Homo sapiens: one gene and its partners. The protein of the gene in region 2 interacts with the protein of the main gene of each other region in a pairwise test. Each region holds a gene or a part of one and is shown on either strand. Other genes may lie near its edges.

Evidence for each region. The genes of interacting proteins can lie anywhere in the genome.
Region 1: the proteins of ARNT2 (region 2) and NPAS3 interact in binary tests that used the Homo sapiens proteins (3 or more experiments, as listed by UniProt).
Region 3: the proteins of ARNT2 (region 2) and AP3M1 interact in binary tests that used the Homo sapiens proteins (3 or more experiments, as listed by UniProt).

The regions. Positions count from the first base shown.
Region 1 is NC_000014.9:32,941,869-32,948,920, reverse strand, and holds part of NPAS3 (neuronal PAS domain-containing protein 3), read right to left. Parts: intron 1-7,052.
Region 2 is NC_000015.10:80,407,330-80,414,381, forward strand, and holds part of ARNT2 (aryl hydrocarbon receptor nuclear translocator 2), read left to right. Parts: intron 1-7,052. UniProt on the Homo sapiens protein: Transcription factor that plays a role in the development of the hypothalamo-pituitary axis, postnatal brain growth, and visual and renal function. Specifically recognizes the xenobiotic response element (XRE).
Region 3 is NC_000010.11:74,119,787-74,126,838, reverse strand, and holds the end of AP3M1 (AP-3 complex subunit mu-1), read left to right. Parts: intron 1-483; coding exon 484-691; coding exon of another isoform or gene 692-713; intron 714-2,314; coding exon 2,315-2,459; intron 2,460-2,928; coding exon 2,929-3,029; 3' UTR 3,030-6,584; downstream 6,585-7,052. UniProt on the Homo sapiens protein: Part of the AP-3 complex, an adaptor-related complex which is not clathrin-associated. The complex is associated with the Golgi region as well as more peripheral structures.

The sequences.
Region 1 (7,052 bases), on a different chromosome or scaffold from region 2:
CCTGAGCCCTACATTTTCCCTCTCCCCGCTCCCTTTAGATGAAGGGTCACAGTAAGAAATGAATACATTTTTCTCAAAGTCTGGAAAAATGGCTTCAAATAAATATTAATCTACCGCAATCGATATATATGAGGAATGGAGAGGGGCTGGTAGGAGAGTGGTGACTACAGAACTATATTAAAACAAAGGTTGCAGTTAAAGAAAATCAGGGCAGAAAGCAAGGCAGCAGGCCTGAGGCTCTAATCACAGAACAGAGTGATGGAGATGAACCAATACTGCATGGATTAGCGATGAATTATTTTGAACCATAATCATATGCCTGCACAGGAGAGAGGCAAAAACTAACCATTGCTCGTAAACTGATGGCTGCTGATTTCCAGAGACAGAAAGAGAGAAGCAAAGAGAGAGAAAAGAATAAATTCATATGCTAAACTAATTCAGAATAATGAAAACCTAAAGATGGGGTTATACTTCAAGTAACATTTTATTTTTAATGTCTGCTACATACTACATAATATGGAGTGTTTTGAATATAAACTGTAAAGTTCTTAGATTCAAACAGGATTAAACCAACCATTTCTTCTAAGATTAGGATGCAATATATCTACTCTACATTCTTCACTGCCCAATAAAACCATTTTTGGACAACTTTGACATCCCCAAAATATAAATTTTTTAAGTATTTATGTATAAAGAAGAAACAGCATTCAAGAAATTAACTTCCTTTGGATAATCTGAAAAATTCATAGCAAATGAAGATTCAATTGTTAAAACTAATTTTGTTAGGAAGAAAAAACTAAAAACTGCTGGTAGCAAGAGATTCCTGAGATTCTTATGAACAGACTGTTTAAATGAAGAGCACTTTAATCAGTAGAGGAATCCTCACGTTTCTAATGTCTTGCTGTGCATTCTGCAGGTTATAGTAGCAGCTGGAAGAGGTCATATATCTCTTGTGAGCATCCCAAAAAGGCTCACTGCCAGACTGTTAAATTATGAATAAGCAATGAACAAAAGAATGCAGATACGGTGGTGACAAGATAATCCAAGCAAATTTATCTATGACAAATTTCACAGGATTAACAAATTACATTTACACAGAACAATAAAAATGTGCAAAAAAAAATGATGAGCCTACTTTGCCTTACAGCATTAGGAAAACAAAAAGTCACCAATCCACTGCATACATTTAAATTTAACTCAATCTAAAGTAAGACATTTATAATGTTCAAGATATCTTTGTAACTTTTTTCCATTTTAGATAGACATACACAAACATGGTATATCTCATACATATTTTATATATAATTTATGTTGTAAACAGTGTATATATATGTGTGTATCATGTGACATATATATGCTGTGTACACTATATACAAAAATCTTGTATAATTAAAAAAATTCATATACCTGAATAGAATATATATGTTTTTAGAAGTGGATTCTGATGAATAAATTATATTTGTAAAGGGAAAATGCCCCTTCCATCAGCACAATACATACTAGTTAATAAAATATCCATATTCATTCATGTCTCCATTTTCTAGGACCAGAGAGAGAAGTTCTGCAAACAATTTCAATCATTCCACTTGCCACCATTGAAATACTGCCATCTTTCTGAGCTAAAGTGCTTCTGAATGAAGTTTAGAGCTAGCATCCTTTTCCGCAGTGTTACTGTAGCAGAAAGGAAAAATCAGAGATTTGGGGAAGAGAGTGTTAATTATAGCTATATTCACACTTATATTGACCCTTAATCCAATATTAATTTTTCTTTATAAGAAAATTATTTTTATAAATCTTACAAATGAAAATGCCCTAGTTCATCAGATATAATGAAATATTATTGAAATGACCTATAAGTTTATAAAGTGGTCTTAAAATGCTGTGGGACACTACTTTCCAAAATATGCAATTAAGATTTGTAAGTTTAATGTTTTACACTAGGTACCCAACTCACAGCCCTTTAATTCTGCATTAGCATACTGATGATAATATAATAATGTAATCAGATGTAATCTCTTTTAAGATGATCTGATGGTGGTTAAAAATTTTGTAGTCTATTTTTCACTTATACTTCCTATTGACTTTTGTTTTTTATCTTCAATATTTCAGTAAAATATCCCTTTAAATTTTAAGTCCTTTGCAACTTAAAAGGCAACTTATCCTTTCATAAACAAGATATTTGCTGAATGTAAAAAATGAATCCAATACACAAGCGAATTATCTTGCAATCACAAATACTCAAGCACTTCTTATCTAGTCCTTTTAAGCCCGAAATTTCTATTATACCTATTATTTTTAAAGAAGCTATTTAGTTGACAATATTACATCCAAAAACGTAAAGATAAATGTGGCATGTTTGTCTGCTACTGAGATCTTGCATATATTCTGCAATGAACACCCACATCACACGCTACAAAGTTTCCTAAAGTACAGCTTTTGTTAAAGAACTGTTATGTATCAGACCAACCCTAGGGTTCCTGGCATAGAGGAAAAAAAGTTACCAAAGGCTAACTTTCCCTTCTTGAAGATGACTCTGTGTGTGTGTGTGTGTGTGTGTGTGTGTGTGTGTGTGCGCGTGTGTGTGTGTTGGGGGGATGGGGGAGTAAATAACTTACCATTTATGTATTTATTGTGGCCCATTTTAACATGTCATGTTTTTAATTAAATGAGTGAATGCATGTAAAGCTCTCAGAAGAGTACCTGTTTATTAGCACACGATGCTATATAAATGCTTGCTGCCATTATTATAATGCCAGATAATTTGGCAGGAGGCCAACTTGTACAAATCCTTACAAATTTCAAAAGACAATGTCCAGAAATACAGTTAGGTACTAAAATGAGTTATTCAGAAAGCCTTATGAGACAGTTTTTACACAACCAGTGGCAAAACTATCACAAAATAAAAATGCTTCAACTATAATCTTTAGAGAAACTTGTGGCACACTCTGAGCCATGAATTATATGAGCAGAAGAGGGCCTTGAGAACTTCATATGCTGTGACCAAAGAGGCAGATGTACGTGGCAAACTGATTCTTCTGGCACCACTCAGCTACAAATCTGCCCTGAAGTATGTATAGTTATGGAGCTTGCCCACAAAACTACTGGGATAGTAAAGGGTGAGGTAACGATGCTTTCAATATTGATTCTTTCTCTAATTTCATAAACACTGTATTTCTCCAAACATCTGATGAAGGACCAAAACAGAGGGCTATCGTTCACTACCCATAGTGAACTGGTCTTTCTGCCATTGGAACTCTCTGATATTGGCTCGGAAATCTCTGAGTTTGGAAAGTCTGAAAACGCAGGCCCTTCCACACTGGTGTTAAGGTACATTTCTACAAAGACTGTACTGCCTAAGTTCACCTGAGAGACAAACCTGAATTCAGTCTCTATCACCTTCCTTGGGAATGCTAAACCTCTATTTTCTCATGCATAAATGGGGATATTAGCACTTCCCTCATAGGTCAGTGGGGAAACTAAAGAGAAAATTATTGTGAAGCATGTAATATAGTGTCTGAAACATGGCAGTGTCCAATGTTTATATTATTATATAATCATCATCGTATATAACCTATTTTTATTTTTAAATCCCATCAAAATAACTTTTATAAAATTTACTACAATTTCACTTCAATTTATACAGTATCTTTTCTCTCTCTGTCCTCCAGGAGCCTCTAATCACTTTGTAGTCACTAATTACAATATTTTACAAGTTGAATAACTATCCTCACAGAACACTAAGCTAACAGAAGTGAAAAAAGAAAGCCTTATATTTCTATGAATTCATTACTTCTTACTCTTTTAGAAAAGGGTATCTTCTGGCTCTCTATAATATTTTGTATAACCAATAGAAGGGCAAGCCTACAACCAAAGCAACTGCTCTTACAAGGTATATATTTAGTACTGTACCTGGCACGCATAACCACGGTCCATGGTAGAGGTTCAATAAATGAAGCTGAATGAAAGAACCAGTCAATCATTACAGTCTAGGGCCAGGAGAACTGTGGGCCATAGTAACATAAGATCTTCATCTTGCTTCCCCTGATTTCACATACAAGACCACAGTATTTCAATTAATTCACCAAGACGTGATGTTTTACAAATGTATACAGAAAACTTCAACTATTGTTTAATGTTGTCACTGCCCTAGTCATTTCAGATACAGTAGCAGTTACTTTATTCTTACTAAGCCATGTCCTGTTTATGCATTGTAGTATTACTAATATTACTACACATTCTTCTAACTATTCTATCAAACTTAATAGTGCAAACATCCTATTCACACTAATGAGGCTCAGCGCAGTAAAAATACCATTCAGTTACAGTTGGTTTATTACACTGACCAATGAGGGGGGAAAAAAGGCCACTATTTACTGGGAAAATACTAACATCACCGAATGCAAACAATTGGATTTTCTGATAAATTCTAGTTCTTACTAATCATAGATATATTTAAAGTTTCACATATTCCATTATGTGCAATTTTGATAGCATTTAAAATTTAAAGAATAATATTTAATCAAGTAAAATTTAACATACTAACTTATTTACTAAGTTTCAGCCTTATTCATCCTAAGCAATTAAAGACACGTCTATAAAACACCTGAAGTTAGACTGTAGCCCAAATACAATGCAGAACTTTAAAAAATCAATTAGAATGATTAAATGTTATACGCAGAAAAAGTGACTGTGTAAACATAGCATGGAGGTGGCAGGAGCTACCTCTGCTTTCATGAGTGTTAATTTTCTTTAAATTTAGTGACATTTTGCATAAGACATAGGTTTACTAGAATTGTAGAAAAACAAAAACAGATTAAGGTTACATTAGGGTCATTATTAATAGTAAAGCACTTAAGGAAGTTAGTAGAGGAAAGCATTAAAAGGATTTTGAAACTTTTGTAATATATTCTCCATAAATATCCCCAAATAAAGGCCAGGCACAGTGGCTCACGCCTGTAATCCCAGCACTTTGGGAGGCTGAGGCAGGCAGATCACCTGAGGTCAGGAGTTTGAGACCAGCCTGGCCAACATGGTGAAACCCCTATCTCTACTAAAAATACAAAAATTAGCTGGGCGTATTGGCATGTGCCTGTAGTCCCAGCTATTTGGAAGGCTGAGACAGGAGAATCATTTGAAGGCAGAGGTTGCAGTGAGCTGAGATTGTGCCACTGCACTCCAGCATGCCTGGGCAACAGAGCAAGACTCTGTCTAAAAAAAAAAAAAAAAAGAAAAAGAAAAGAAATAAAGAAACAAAAAAGAAATCCCCAAATATGAAGACCTACTGCTTAAGAAAATAAATAATGCTTCCCCAAAAGTGTTGCTTTACAGAAGCCATAGAAAACCTCACCACAGAGCAGGGGATCCTAGCAGCAGGTCCTACTTCAAACAGACACAATTGTAACATAGCACTGAATCCCAGACCAGGATCTGGGGCAGGGAAGAGGAGTAAGGTGGTTCATAAGTATTCTGGCCTTCTCATAAAATAGCTATATTATAGTATAGGGCCAGCCATTGGGTAGAAGAATTACAGGGGAAGATCAAAATTCATATGACTAAAATTATCAAACTGCTCCAATTTCTGGATTATATTTGAAGTACAGTATAAGTCTTACCAATTGATTGCTGAGATATTAATTACACATCACTTTTAGCCATATTTTTAAGACTATATAAAGACACAGAAACCAAAACCTTACTAATAACACTACTAGGTGAAAACACCTCATGTAACTTTAAAAAAAAAAAAGTATCGAATAATGTTGAATTCAAGTTTGCTCATTTGCTCACTGTAAGGAATCAAATCTAGTGATTGGCATATTGCACATGTGGAGTAGTTATATGTCTTTCAATTCATAAATCAGAAATTGGAAATCTGAAAAGATGTTGTAATGAGGGAGGGTCTTACATAATAAAGGTCATTATAACTCCTGGCTCTGGAGCTATACGATCTAATATCCTCTCTGGTGGATCATGATATGCCCATGCATTACAGTTCTTGTTGACAGTCTGTTGCCTTGGAAATATTTCATTATTTCAGTTTTTCCATTTGTAGACCCTTGGCCTTGTGATATGAAGGCCATCCTATTTCATATTTTCGATTATCATTTAAGCAATCTTGTGGAGCTATTTATATATATAAGCAAGTGTTAGACAATGCATATAATCATTTATCACCCCTATTTAAGCTTATACTGTAGATAGAAATACCTCCAAAAACCAGTCTCCACCACCTTTACTTTTTAAACCAAAAGCCTTGTGCTACTGGGATACGCTTTGCAAATCAGCATGGGCATATCACATGCTTGACACTTCTCTCTGTCTAATTTTTTTGGTTATACATCCACATAGTAGAAAAACTTTGTGGTAGTGCTATATAATTTGCAGTCTATTGGCGTTTAAAGAAAATCAAACAAGTTTATGTACACAAGGTTTTCAACTTGTTCTTTCAGGCTCTAAAGAGACACTTTCTGTATATGTAATTCAGAGAAATGTAAGGAGCACTAAATAGTAACCAAAGACATTATCAAGAACGAGCTTATTTTTCTGAAATTTACATTATAAACATTACTATAAGGAAATGACTTTGGTACTGTATTACTATACACAGGTTAGACATTTCATAAATAAATGAGACAATTCAAAAGATATATTTTTCTCTGTAAGTTTCAGATTACTAATATATTTGAAAAGCAGTAAAGAATAAACTGTCCATAAATGCCTCTGTGAAATCAATGATTTTGAAAACATTTTTTTAAATAAATAGGAGGATACCATTTAAAACATATCCACAGAAAGTCATCTTTTATAAACATATTTGTGTTCAACTGCTACAAGGAAATACTTGTTAACCAACAAGTTCTAGGCACAATGTGCAAATAAAGGTGGAATTACTCACTTACTTGAAGCAAGTATGAAAAACAGCCCCCTCCTAAACAAATCATCTGATTTCCCATTTCTCATTACAAAGCCAAATCAACTTACATGTGTAATGTTTACACTTAAAGTGTTAAGAGCATTTAAAACCCTGACAACAAAGTGAACCCTTGGGGCAT
Region 2 (7,052 bases):
TGGTGACCGGTGATGTTGGGGTCTTCACGCTCATGTTACTCATGTTACTCTGTGGATATAATACAGGTCCAAATTTGGAATCTGCTCCTTCAAGGTCCCCTGTTGGGGTTTTAGGTTAGGATTCTACCAGCTACTCTGGGAGAGGAGAAGAAAGGATTGGGCTCCCAGATATTCTCCTCATGACTTCTGCTATGACAGTCCTGGTTATATTCCTCATATCCTGTGGCCCCTGGTGCCTCCTCCTTCTGGGTCATTTACAGTCCTTACGTTGGTCACTGAAACTGTTGTATTGGCTGATTTTCTCTTTTCTCTCTGGCCAGGAATGACATATATCCTTTAGACTAGAGAGTGAAGTCATAGAATCTTCCGTTTTGTGTGTCTGTGTGTGTGTGTGTGTGTGTTGTTTTGCTGCCTTTTTGAATGACATTTAAGTGTTTCTGATGTATAGGAAATAGTGAAGATTTGAATTAGTTATATACATAAAAGGGTATTTGCAGCTGAAATGGCACAATTAAGAAGGAGATTGTTTCCCCAATGTCATTGTTCCATCTTAATCTTTTGTAATTTAAGCATGAGGGAATCAGCTACAAATTCAGACCAGTAATCATTAGGAATTAAGCATTATGTGGACATTCTCTGAGATGAGTATTTGCAGAGTAATTAATAAGGCTCATATGTTTTAAAGGATTTCAAAATTATGTTTTAAGAGATTTGGAATTCCACTTTTTTTTCTGAAATCAATTATTGGATTTTTTCCCCACTTCCAGGTTTCTGGTCTTTGGCATTTCAATTTGGAATTAATTGTATAGTGCAGGAAGATTCTCTGGACAAATTGCCTTAGATGGAGGGACATTTGAATCAGCTTGTTGAACTGATTGGATATCTTTGATATGCCAAGCTGTCTGCAGGGAATAGAGCAATGTGGAGATGAGGGAGAATATTTCTTGACCTCAGGGGGTTCTAAGTCTACTAGGGGAGGCATAGGTAGACTAACTTAATAACACCAGGTGGAATGAAATGAACGTTGACTAGGCATGTTCATATCATCATGGGGAGCCAGAGGAAGTCTTATGGGAGGTAACTTCTGAACGTGGGCCTTTTGAAGACAGAGATTTTGACTTATAGAGAATTTAGGAATGGTCATTTTGCGCTGATGGCTGGCGTGTGAGGCAGACAAGATTTGTGAAAATATGGAATACTGTCAAGTGGTTGCTTCCTCAGTGCTCTTGGGGACTCAGCAGGACACCCAAGAATGTGGGTAGGTTTTGAGCCTTTGAGACGTGTGCGCTATGCTTGCAAGCTGTCCTGCCTTGAGTAGGGCTGGAACAGCCAAACCAGCTGGACATACAGTTGAGCCCAATTTCTCTATATCCTGTCCTTCATTGAATCTACGAGCCCATCAGTTGCAGGACACATCATTCTTTTATGGACTTATAAGAAAAAAATGAGCTGATGGCATTTTGGCTTTCATCAAAAGAAAGAAAAAAAGGAAGAAGTGATACCTGAAAAAAGAGATTTATTTATTCCTTCAGTATATATTTATTTTAATTAATTAATGAATTTTAAAAAGTTAATTTTTAAAGGCTCCTTTTTTAGGGCAGTTTTAGGTTCACAGCAAAATTGAAAGGAAGGCACAGAGATTCCTCATATATCCCCTGCCCCCACACATGCACAACCTCCCCCATGATCAACATTCCCCAGCAGAGTAGTACATGTGTTACAATTGATGAACCTACAATGACACATCATTATCACCCAAAGTCCATAGTTCACATTAGGATTCACTCTTGATGGTTGGTAGACGTTCTATGGGTTGGACAAATGTATATGACTTATATCTACCGTTATAATATCATGCAGAGTATTTTCACTGCCCTAAAAATTCTCCATGCTCCACCTATTCATTCCTCCCACTTCCGAATTCTTGGCATCCACTGATGTTTTTACTGTCTCCATAGTTTTGCCTTTTCCAGAAAGTCATGTAATTGGATTCATGCATTACGTAGCCTTTTCAAACTGGCATTTTTCACTTAATAATATGCATTTACATTTTCTCTGTATCTTTCAGTGGCTTGATAGCTCATTTGTTTTGGTGCCGAAGAATATTCCATTGTCTGGATGTACCACAGTTTATTTATTCATTCACCTACTGAAGGACATCTGGGTTGCTTCTAAGTTTTGGCAATTATGACGAATGAAGCTGCTAGGGGCTAATACTTACTGAGTAACTACTATGTGCCGGGGACTGATCTTGGTTCTGGGATCACTGTGGTGAGCAAATTAGGTATAACTCCTACCATCATGCTGCTTGCTAGCAAGACAAATAGTCACAAAAGAGTAACACAATTGGGTTAGTTATGAAAAGTGTAAATGTTATGAAGAAATGATCCCCTGAGATAAAATAACCAAGGGACCTAAATTAGAGGATTAGCAAAGGCCATTTGAAGTCAGTGAAAGCCTCTCTGAGGAGTTGACCCTTGAGTCAAGCTCCAAGGAATGATGAGAAATGTGAGGAAGAGCATTCCAGGCACAAGGAAGAGCCCCTTCAAAGGCCCTGAGTTGGGAAGAGCTGGAGAACAGGGAGCAAGGGTGAAAGCGGTGTGAGAAGCTGGAGCTGCGGTAGAGGCCAGCTCACGGGGGACCACTTTTGGGTTAGGGACTGAGACTTCATTTTTAAAAAGCGCTGGAAATCTACTGAAGGGGGTTTGAGCAAGGGGCATGATCTGACCTGCACTTTTAAATGCTGCTTCTGGCTGCTGTGTGGAGAGCCAATTGGACTGAAGCGGGAGGAAAAGTAAGACTCCAGTTAGATGGTGCTAACTTAGGTCAGGGGCTGTCAGTAGAGAATGAGAGAGAGGGAGGTGGATTTGAGTTATACTGGGGGCAGGGATGCCATGCTGAACAACTCCAGGGGCACCAGTTACTTCCCTGTCCATCCCTTGGGCACGACATGTCCTGCTTGGGGCAGAATCATCATGACTTCATTGTAAGGAGTTAGGGGAAGAGTCAAGGACGATTCCCAGCTTTCTGTCCAACACCTGGGTGGTTGGAGGTGACAGGAAGTTAGTGAGAGGCAGGGGGCCTGTGGGGTGTGCTCCAGGCTTCAGTATTGGACAGCTGAGTTGAGCTGCTTGTGCGACAAGCAAGTGGAACTGTCATGGAGGCAGTGGGACACATGCTCCCAGAGATCTGGGCTGGAGAAGGAAACAAAGAGGGATGTTGGCCAGCCATTTACCAGGTTCTCTAAATGCTTTCCTTGGGGTAAGTTAGTTCACAGAACATAGAGCTTTTGGTCCAAGTACCATAGTTCCCAAACAATGCTTGCATTTACTGCTTTATTGTCTGTCTTTATTGAGATTCACTAAGACACAAGGTCATAGGGAGATTATTTCTGCATCTTTTCCAGATCCAGCAATCCATTCATTTTTATCTATCTATCTATCTATCTATCTATCTATCTATCTATCTATCTATCTATCTATCATCTATCTACCTACCTATCATCTGTCTACCATCTCTCTCTCTCTCTCTCTTTCTCTTTCCCTCCTTTTGTGGGGCAGGTCAGGCTGTTGGACTAGCTCACCACACGAAACTCTTTGTTCAATGAAGAAAAGTTATTTCTCAGTTTTAGCCAAGCTCCTTTCCAATTGAGGGCTCTTGTTTATGTTGTGTCCCTCTTCTTGGAATGATTAATTGCTCACTGTCCCTCCTTCCCTACCCTTACCCCCTCCTCACTCCTAACCATTTTCCTGTCCAATTCCTACTTTTCTTCTGGTCTCAGCTTGAATTCTTACTCCATTAGGGAAATCTATCCTGATCCCTTTATCCAGGTAAAATGTACCTATCATGCATTCTTCCAGGGCCCCATAAAGCTGTACTTTGCTTCTGGAGCACTTCGCCTCATGTAAATTGTGCAGTTATTTGATTGATACCTGACTGGAAGCCCTGTGAGGGCAGGGAATGTATCCAACAGTATGGCAGCCCTGGCACCTACCATATTGCTTCCCATACAATAGATACCCAGTAGGGTTTTGTTAATGAATAAATGGAGGGATGCCAGGGAACTGTCTTTTATTTTGTATGTGGCTGCCTTTCAATGACTCCCTTGAAGGAAAGAAAGCATATATCCTATATTTGTGGGTCTCTGTAACAAAATAGTCCAGAGCTGTCTAATTGAGATTCTGACTTTTATTTGTGGAAACTGATTTTGATCTGAAAATCCTACCAAGATAATCCCTATGCAAACTAGTTCCTCTAGACTTTCTAATAAGGAGCCTTGGACACACAAAGCTCATCATTCTTCCCAGAAGAAGATTAGGTCAGAATTGAACAGTCGAATGTATTTATATATTTTTATTTTATACTGCTGTCCACAAAGGTTACACCAGAGGCTTAGAGAGGCTCAGAGACTTACCTCGAGTCCTCAGCAGGTGGGTGGGTGAGGAGGTCCTACACCTACCTGATACCTTGGACACACAAAGCTCATCATTCTTCCCAGAAGAAGGGTAGGTGATAGCTTGGAGACTGGCTGGTGGTAGTGGTAGGTTCCGTGTTACAGTCCCACAGGGTCTTCTCAGAAGGGAAGTGGGATCCTCCCATTTACTGCCTTCTGTGTTGTGTGTGAAACTATTGACATGGCTTGCTTAATTACCAGCAGTTACTGATAAGACAGACTCCAGGCTGGCTTTGAGATTCAGCCACCCCAACAGCATTCAGGAAGGCAGCAACAAGGTCAAAAGATGCATTCATTGCCCTCTGATTGAATAGTGCAGGCTTTAGAGTTGGAAGCTGAGGCTCTTTGCAGATAAGCAGAGACTCTGTGGCTGCCAAGTCTATAACAATTTGACCATTTTTTTCAGGGAAATCTACAAAAATGCCAAAATGTTTACAAATAGGTACTTCCTGCTTTTGTACATTGTATGAAAACATGGGACATCTCTTACTGTTTTGGTTTCATTGTGAGAACATACAAAGCAGAGGTTGGAGCTCTTCTCCTAGCCCCTGCTGAGGAGTTGGTTGCTTTCTTCACCACAACCACTTTTCCCCCACAATAAAGATCTGTGTTGATTGTAAAAAATTTGGAAAATGCACAAAAACACTAAGATAATTCTGCCACCCATAACTAACATTTTTGCGTATATCCTTACAGACTTTTTTCTAAATATTGTGTGTGTGTGTATATATATATATATAACAAAATAGAATTATTTCGAGCATATTGCTTTGTCATCCCTTTTTTCCCTTCATTAATGGTATATCCTATCAAGGATACTGATTTGAGAAGCTGCATATATTCTGTTTATGGCTGTGTCATAATTCATTAACTCACATTCTTATATCTGGGCATATAATATTTGGTGTGCTTTTCTGTTTGCCAGAATTGTACACACCATTGTATTGAACATCCCCGTATATGAATGAATATATGAATACATGATTTTTTCCTTATTGTCAATTCTTTGAAGTAGAATTGAACAGTCAAATGGATTTATATACTTTTATACTGCTGTCCACAAAGGTTAGAACAGAGGCTCAGAGAGAGGCTCAGAGATTTATCTGGAGTCCCCAGCAGGTAGGTGGATGAGTAGGTCTTACACCCAGACGCTGTGCCCCCTATCCTTGGCAGGTTCCGGCAACCCAGGCCAGGCCCTGTTGCCTGTAAGTCTGGAACTCAGATCATCTACTGATGTCTATAAAGGGCAACTGTGTACCTTTCCTGGCCTCCTTTCAGTGATTTAATAATTTCAGTGGCTTTTTAATTAACTGCTGTTAGGGTAATTGGTCCAGGTCAAAACAGGCAGGAAGTTGCCTTACTCAACAGGCAGAGAGCCTCTGATGGCCTCAGTGGGCCGCTGCAGGGGCCCCATGACTGGGCTCTCCATGCCAACCTGGGTTCTCATCTGAGGCCCCATTGTTCTCCCTCCACCCCCTCCCTTACCAATTCACCTCTTCCATATGGCCTTTCTCAAACGCTGGTGCCACTAACTTACCCAGAAACCTTTGCTCACCGTCTATTGTCCACACATCCTCCTAGGATTGACCTACACACTTCCAACCAGACCACCTGGCTGACAGGGTGGTCCCAGGGCTTAGAGAGCATGCGGCCAGGTGATTTCTGGTCCTGCCTGCCTGCCTGTGATACCATTAGGCAGGCCATGGTGGTTATTCCTGTTTCAAATGCACATTCAGGAGTTGTTAGTAACTGAGGATAAATGTGTTTGTTTCTGATTTGGCCATCCCTACTTTTCTTCCAACAACTCTAAAAAAGTGGAGAGCAGCTGCAGGTGGAACTAGGCATCTCTCTATCCAGGCTTAGGTGGCAAAAGGAAAGACTCTGAGGTAGGACAGCCTGGGAAGATTCAGGGGTGCAATGTCCAGGGTGGGAGCACCAGAGGAGTTGGCCTGAGTGGAAACCCAGCTCTTCGGGTAGAGCCAGGCCTTCCAAGAGACAAATTAGCTGAAGGCCTTACTGGTGGCTGAGCGAGGGAGGTGGGGCCAAAGGAGAGGAGGGTGGCCTTCCATATACTCTGCCTGTTGAGTAAGGCAACTTCCTGCCTGTTTTGGCCTGGACCACCCAATTACCCTAACAGCAGTTAAAAAAGCCACTGAAATTATTAAATCACTGAAGGGAGGCCAGGAAAGTTACACAGTTGCCCTTTATAGAGGTCAGTAGATGAGCTGAGTTCCAGACTTAGAGGAACAGGAAGCCAAAGTTAATTGGTGCACCAATTTTTAAATTAATAGCCACACAAAATAGTATTGTCTTTCTTATCTTCAATAGACCTCTAAGTTGGGTGGCAGGACATGTGAGAAACCTGGGCACAGAGGCCAAACGTGTATCCACACAGTGCTTCTCAACTGGGGGCATTTGCAATGTCTGGAAACATTCTTGGTTGCCACACCTCCAGGGAGTAGGGGTGCTACTGGCATCTACGGGTAGAGGCCAAGGATGCTGCTAAACATCCTACTGTGCACAGGGCAGCCCCCACAGCAAAGAGCTTATCCAGCCTCAAATGTCAATAGTGCCAAGGTTGAGAAACTCTGGTCTATGG
Region 3 (7,052 bases), on a different chromosome or scaffold from region 2:
CCACCACACCCAGCTAATTTTTGTATTTTTAGTAGAGACGAGGTTTCACCATGTTGGCCAGGCTGGTCTTGAACTCCTCACCTCAGCCTCCCAAAGTACTGAGATTACAGGTGTGAGCCACCGCGCCCAGCCCTAGCTAATTTTTGTAGAGACGAGGTTTCATCATGTTGGCCAGGCTGGTCTCAAACTCCTGACCTCAGGTGATCCCCTCCCAACCCTGGTCTCGGCCTCCCAAAGTGCTGGGATTACAGGCATGAGCCACCACGCCTGGCCAATTTTGTGAAATAATATTTTCAATCCTCAGCTGGTCAAATTCAAGGATGCAGAACTGTGGCTACAGAGAGCCAACTCTGTAGTACCTTATTGTGGAGTTAAAGGCAGGGTAGGATACTCTGGACAGAGGTTTTCAGGATACCTCTGGAGCTCTCCCCACACCATTAATTGTGTTTGTGCTTTTGTATCTTTCTCTGTTTCTCTTTTTAGTCTAGTGGCAATACCAGTGTATGTGAAACATAGTATCAGCTTTAAGGAGAACAGTTCTTGCGGCAGATTTGATATAACAATTGGACCAAAGCAGAATATGGGGAAAACTATTGAAGGAATTACAGTGACAGTTCACATGCCAAAAGTTGTGCTGAACATGAACCTGACACCCACACAAGGCAGCTATACATTTGATCCAGTCACCAAGGTACAGCCACTTCAAATCAAGAGTGAGCAAGTGTTTCTGCAATCTATTTTGTGATTTGTGGGGAGGAATGGAGGGAAAGGTTTGGCACCTTGTTTAAAACTAAAGTTCGTATCAAAACCTAGAGAGCATACTGTGCTGTGCTTCTGCCACTGGCTGCAGAAGGAATCCTGCAGCTGCTACTGAGTAGATGAACAGAAAAATGTGTCATTCTGTCCTTTTTCAGAGTGTGCCTTCACTCATCCATTATTAATCCAGAGCCTGACTCTGCTATCTAATAAGAAAGAAGTAAAAGCTTTTTTAAAAAGAGAAAACATTATGTAGATTGAAGAAGATATTATGATGGTCTATGAATTACTAAGTTTTCTATATAAATTGATCACTAAGACCTTTTTCTTCCTTTATAATTTAAAAGCATTATTTCATACTCTTTCACAGGGCTAGGAAAGTTGCTTCCTCACTCTACTTAAATTTTTGTGTAACAGAGGGTTTTCAGAGAAACTGTAGCAGATGATTTTCTCTCAGCTTCCTGATTAGCTGGTAAATATGATTGTTTTCAATAGCAGAGTCATTGAGCTACCTGATAAATGAAAAGACATGTTTTTTGAATAACATCATAGAATGTTAAAGATTATTTAATACAGTTGTAAGGATTCAAAGAACCTCCTCCTGGAGACCACACAGGGCTGAGAAAGGGAGCTTCAGATTCCTGGCCCTTTACCACAGCTTCAACTATGACAGCTTTGCTTTCTTTCTCATCTGCTGTTGAGCCTTCACACCGAAGATTTCATTTGAACAATGGGTTTCACAGCTAAAAGTTTTAAAAACACCATCTTAAGTCAATCTAATTATTTTACAGAAAAATAAACAGAGGCTGGGCGCAGTGGCTTACGCCTGTAATCCCAGCACTTTGGGAGGCCGAGGTGGGTGGATCACCTGAGGTCAGGAGTTCGAGACCAGCCTGACCAACATGGAGAAACCCCATCTCTACTAAAACTACAAAATTAGCTGGGCATGGTGGCGCATGCCTGTATCCCAGCTGCTTGGGAGGCTGAGGCAGGAGCATCGCTTGAACCTGGGAGGCAGAGTTTGTGGTGAGCCAAGATTGCACCATTGCACTCCATCCTAGGCAACAAGAGTGAAACTCTGTCTCAAAAAAAAAAGAAAAAGAAACAGGCCCAGAGAAAAGTGAAGATGGTTATGATGGAGAACATTTGAAATCAGAGGGCCTTAGGTTCAAATCCCAGCCTTACCTCTGACTAACTATGTGACCTTGAGCGAGTCATTTGATCTCTGAGCCTTAATGTCCTCTGAGCTTTAATTTCCTCATTTGTAAATAGAAGACAAAAGCTACTTCACAGCCCTCAATGAGACAACATATGAATAATGCTAAGCACGGTGCTAATACAAAAGAAAATGCTCAACAAATGTAGATTCTCTGCTCTCACTCCCCATTCAAAGTCACAGAATTAATCAGAGGTAAACTCACTGTAGATGCCAGATCTCTTGTTTTCAAGAGACTGCACTTCAGTTTGTACAGAAGTTTATGATATCTTTGAACTTTGTTTTTGAGGGTTTGTCTTTAATAAATGGTTCTATTTGTTTTTCATTTTTTGTCTTTTTAAGGTACTAACATGGGATGTGGGAAAAATTACTCCACAAAAGCTCCCAAGTCTTAAAGGACTGGTAAATTTACAGTCTGGAGCCCCCAAACCAGAAGAGAATCCGAGCCTCAACATACAGTTTAAGATCCAGCAGCTTGCTATTTCAGGTAAGGATAAGGTTGACTTGTAGTTAAGGGTAATTGAGTTTTGCAAGCTCATTTATTAGGCATTTAGAAGAGTAACAAAAGTTTCCTTCTCTAGAAAGAGCAGTAGCCCATTTGCCTTTTATACTGTGCTTGGTGGGGCAGTCTCACAGGCACCGACCAAATGATTTTTCAGAGCACCTTATTTCAAACAGCTTCCCCTCACCTCCGCCCTCATTTAAGCACCAAAAAGAGAGTTATTCATATTCACAGAAAGTAGAATTATACTTCACAGACATTCCCTGCCTGTGTGGGAATCTTAACCAAAACCATACCATCAAAGTGCAATAATTTGTAAATGATAGAAGAGACATTTCTTCCAAATGGTGGAAGGGACACTGGTTAATGTCAGATTTACCATATAGCGCTCATTGCTAACATTATATTGGTTGGGATGATGATAATTTATTCTTTTTCATTCTTTTTGATACAGGCTTAAAAGTAAACCGTTTGGACATGTATGGGGAGAAATATAAGCCATTTAAAGGAGTCAAATACGTCACGAAAGCTGGAAAGTTCCAAGTGAGGACATGAGAAGAGGCCAAAATTCCTCAGGACCAGTTTGTTTTCCAAGTGTCATTACGATGTATCACTATTAGGTACCAAGTGAGTGGGAATACATATTCTAGTTAAAGCATTTGTGTCTAGCTACACACCGCTAACAAAGTTACTTAGTTATCAATGTAGGATTCTTAAGGAGCTTTAAGCTAAGGAAACCTTTTAGTGACTTAGCTTATTTTGTATCTTTTCACTTAGGAAGATTTTGGAGGTGATTTTTTTCCATAGGAGGATACCATCTGGCGGCTGCACATTGTAACAGTAAAGGCAGAAAGCTGTAGTGATAACCTCTCTCCTAAAAGAGTTAACTGGTCTCATCCAGCAGAAGCTATCTTAAATCTGTGATGTGTCAGGTGCAGCCAAATATCACACCTTCTGATCTTAGCCATCCCAAACCAGTATCTGTCCCGAGAGGAAATTCCCCCCACCCCCAGAAGTTTACAGAAAACTGCCTCTTCAAGTGTTTGCCTTATTCAGCTTTTCACTTGTGCCATTAAGCAAGCACTGTAGCAAAAGCCACTTCCACATGGCCCTGGCAGGGAGCACTGCTGCTCCATGCTCCATTCTCACTGTACTTGGTATTGTATTTTTTATAAATAAGATTTTTATGTAAAGCTTAGAATTTGATTTACAGGGACCTTGCTGCAGTAAATACCATCTCAATTTTGTGCCACTGGTTCAGCTGTTAGCACAGTAAAAAAATCATTTGTATCAAAGGGGCAAATGCTTTATTAAGGTAGTAAAAGGGAACATTACTTCTGCTTTTAGGAAGTTACTGCAAGCACAAGCATTTGTGCTTTTAAGCAAATTAAAGTAGTAAAAGAAAAACTTAAGTGAAACCTTTGCCATCTTCATGTTTTATAATATAAAGCTTACCCAACACCAGTTAAGCCATGGTTAACCTAAATGCCTCATGCCCCAGTTCAGCAAAAGGAGGAAAATGTGCCTGCCTCACAGTCATCAGTCTTTTTAAATCTTTTTTGTTGTTGTTCTTAAGGGTTTGAATTTGTCTGCATTCCTTGTCTTTAGGGGAAATTCCCTTTTCATATTGTGTGCTTCCCAAAGCTATAGTCATAGATTTCTTCCAGAAACTATTGTCATAATTGTCACTGGAGTGCTTAAATATACGTACTATACTGACAAAATACATGGAAGTGAGTTATAATGAGGCAGAAACAAAATCCTCGGTAACATTGATGATACTCTACCGATCACCGTGGTTTTGGAAAGTCAGTCAACAGTTGTATTATTGCACTCAATTTCATTGTGACATTTTATTTAACTTCTTCATCTTGGTGGTCCTTGCCCAGTTATTTTGCCTCATTAGACATCAAGAAATGGAGAAAGACTGAAAGTTAATATCTTAAGTGCTTGTTCTTCATGTTTCCTTCTTGTTATTTATGCTATTCTCTTTGTGGCTCCATTCTTCTTTCAATCTTCTCAGCTTATAACCGTCTTTCCCTTATGCTAAGGATAGCCCTTACACTCATCCCATCTATGCTGTCAAGGGCTGCTGGTTGGTGCTGGTACAAGGAGCCCACTCAGCAGTTTTCTTACCTTTGCCTGCCCTGCCTTTCATGGAATAAGAAAGGCAACGTTTTGCAGCTTCCAAATTTCTGAAGAAACTAATCTCAGATTGGCAGTTAAAGTCAAAATGTTGCCAAATATTTATTCCTTTTGCCTAAGTTTGGCTACCCGGTTCAATTGCTTTTTATTTTTAATGTCTTGACTCTTCAGAGTTCGTACCTCAAAAGAACAATGAGAACATTTGCTTTGCTTTCTGCTGAATCCCTAATCTCAACAATCTATACCTGGACTGTCCAGTTCTCCTCCTGTGCTATCTTCTCTTCTATCCAAGTAGAATGTACGCCAGGAGCTCCTTCCCTCTAGCAATTTCTACTAAAATGTCCAAGTAGAATGTTTCCTTTTACAATCAAATTACTGTATTTATTAATTTGCTAGAATCCAGTAAATCATTTTGGTAGCTCTGGCTGTGCTATCAATAAAAAGATGAAAGCAACAAGTTGATTTTTTTTAGGTCTACTATTGATTGAACATTCTCCAATGGGCAAGGCTCATTGTCAAAGCAGGGTGAACATGATCAGATTTTCTTCTGCATCATCACACAAGCTGCGAGTGTTGCTGCAAAGCACTTCTCAGTACTCCTTCCCTAACCTCAGTATGTTAATAGCCATTCATACTTGGCTTAAGCATCACCATTCTGGCCACAGTCTGAGAGATTAGTGATCAAAGCTCCCTTCCCTATCACTACCACCACCTACTGATAACAAAGATTTCTGAATACTTAGTAGTAGTAAAATATTTTTCAAGCACAGAGTTACAGCTAATCCTGGATCACTTGTTCTAAATTCATAAGGGAGTATATCAAGAGCAAATGAAGTAAATGATTCTTTCCTGCGTGTGGGAGTCACCATCATTTTATTCAAAGGGAGTTCCTGTGATAGGTTCATTCCTTAAGTGGTGCTACAGAAGGACCCTAGGAAAATGCTGATCTTGTCCTGAGAGGCAACTGATTTGAGAAAATGATTATACTACAGCAGGAAGGCAGCACCAGTGAACATATGGTAAATGGCAAAAACAAGACAGTTTTAGAAACTGCTAATTCAGTAGCAGCCTTGGCCTTTCCCTTAACTCAAGCAGGCTGGAATCTGTCTTTATAGTCGGCAACTTTCCAAGATAAAGCAGTGATAATAGCAGTTGGCAACACTAAATATCAATATCATCACCCTTTAATGACATGTTACCCCTTTCAGATCTAGAAAATCAGGGAAAAAGTGATGTCCCAACTCTACTCTAAAAACCTGCTCCTACTATTTTAGTCAGTGTTTCTTTAAGGAAGAAGAGGACTATGTCCCCAAAAGCTAACTCTGTTTTATAGCCCTGGTGGATCCCTGAAAACCCTATTTATTCTATACTGGGCTTTGGAATATGAAAAATGGACCTGTGTGGCCGGGCGTGGTGGATCACACCTGTAATCCCAGCACTTTGGGAGGTCAAGGTGGGCGGATCACTTGAGGTCAGGAGTTCGAGACCAGCCTGGCCAACATGGTGAAACTCCATCTCTACTAAAAATACAAAAATTAGCCAGGCATGGTGGCGCACACCTGTAATCCCAGCTACATGGGAGGCTGAGGCAGGAGAATTGCTTGAACCCGGGAGGCAGAGGTTGCAGTGAGCTGAGATTGCACCACTGCACTGCAGCCTGGGCAACAGAGCAAGTCTCTGTCTTGCAGCAGGGGGAAGGACCTGTGGTACTCCTACAAACTTAACAACTTTAGCTTTTCGGGGAACAGTGGTGGTCTCCACAGATAGCTAGAATCTTCTAAGATGAAAATAAACTGTTTCATCCAGCTGCTTTCTGCCTGTTAACCTTTGCCACTTCCATTCCTTCAAGTGTGTAATCCCCAGGGTTGTCTTGTATTACACACATCCTTGTTAAGTAAATATACCACTGTTGATTTCTTCTTCCAGTGCAACATTTGGATTAAATAAAAATCTTTAGTTTCCAGATCTTGAGGATTAGTTTCATTGACTATTCATCAAAACAAAGGAGAAACCTGACCTAAAAGTTCTTGCTAAAGTAACATATCCATCATTTAAAGCATTTTTTATACAAATGCATTTTATTGTTTTAAACAGAACAAAAGAAGAGGCAGAAAATATTTGCATATAACAAATCCTAGCTTATAAATGTAGTTTTTTAGCGGTGATGTCTCTAATCATCATTCAGGGATTTTTTTTTTTTTTTTTTTTAATTTGCTTCACTGTGTCTCGAGCACTGATATTGGAGAAAAGCACATCCGGCATAAAGTGTAAACCAGTGTCTCAAACCACTGGAAGAACCGGGAGAGCAAACATGATTTTTCTTATTTCCTCTAAGTAATCTTTCTTTAGTAAAACAACAAGTGATCTTTGGCATAGATTCATACTTTAAAGGCATTAATATTGCATTTATATCAGGCAAGCAACTATACAAAT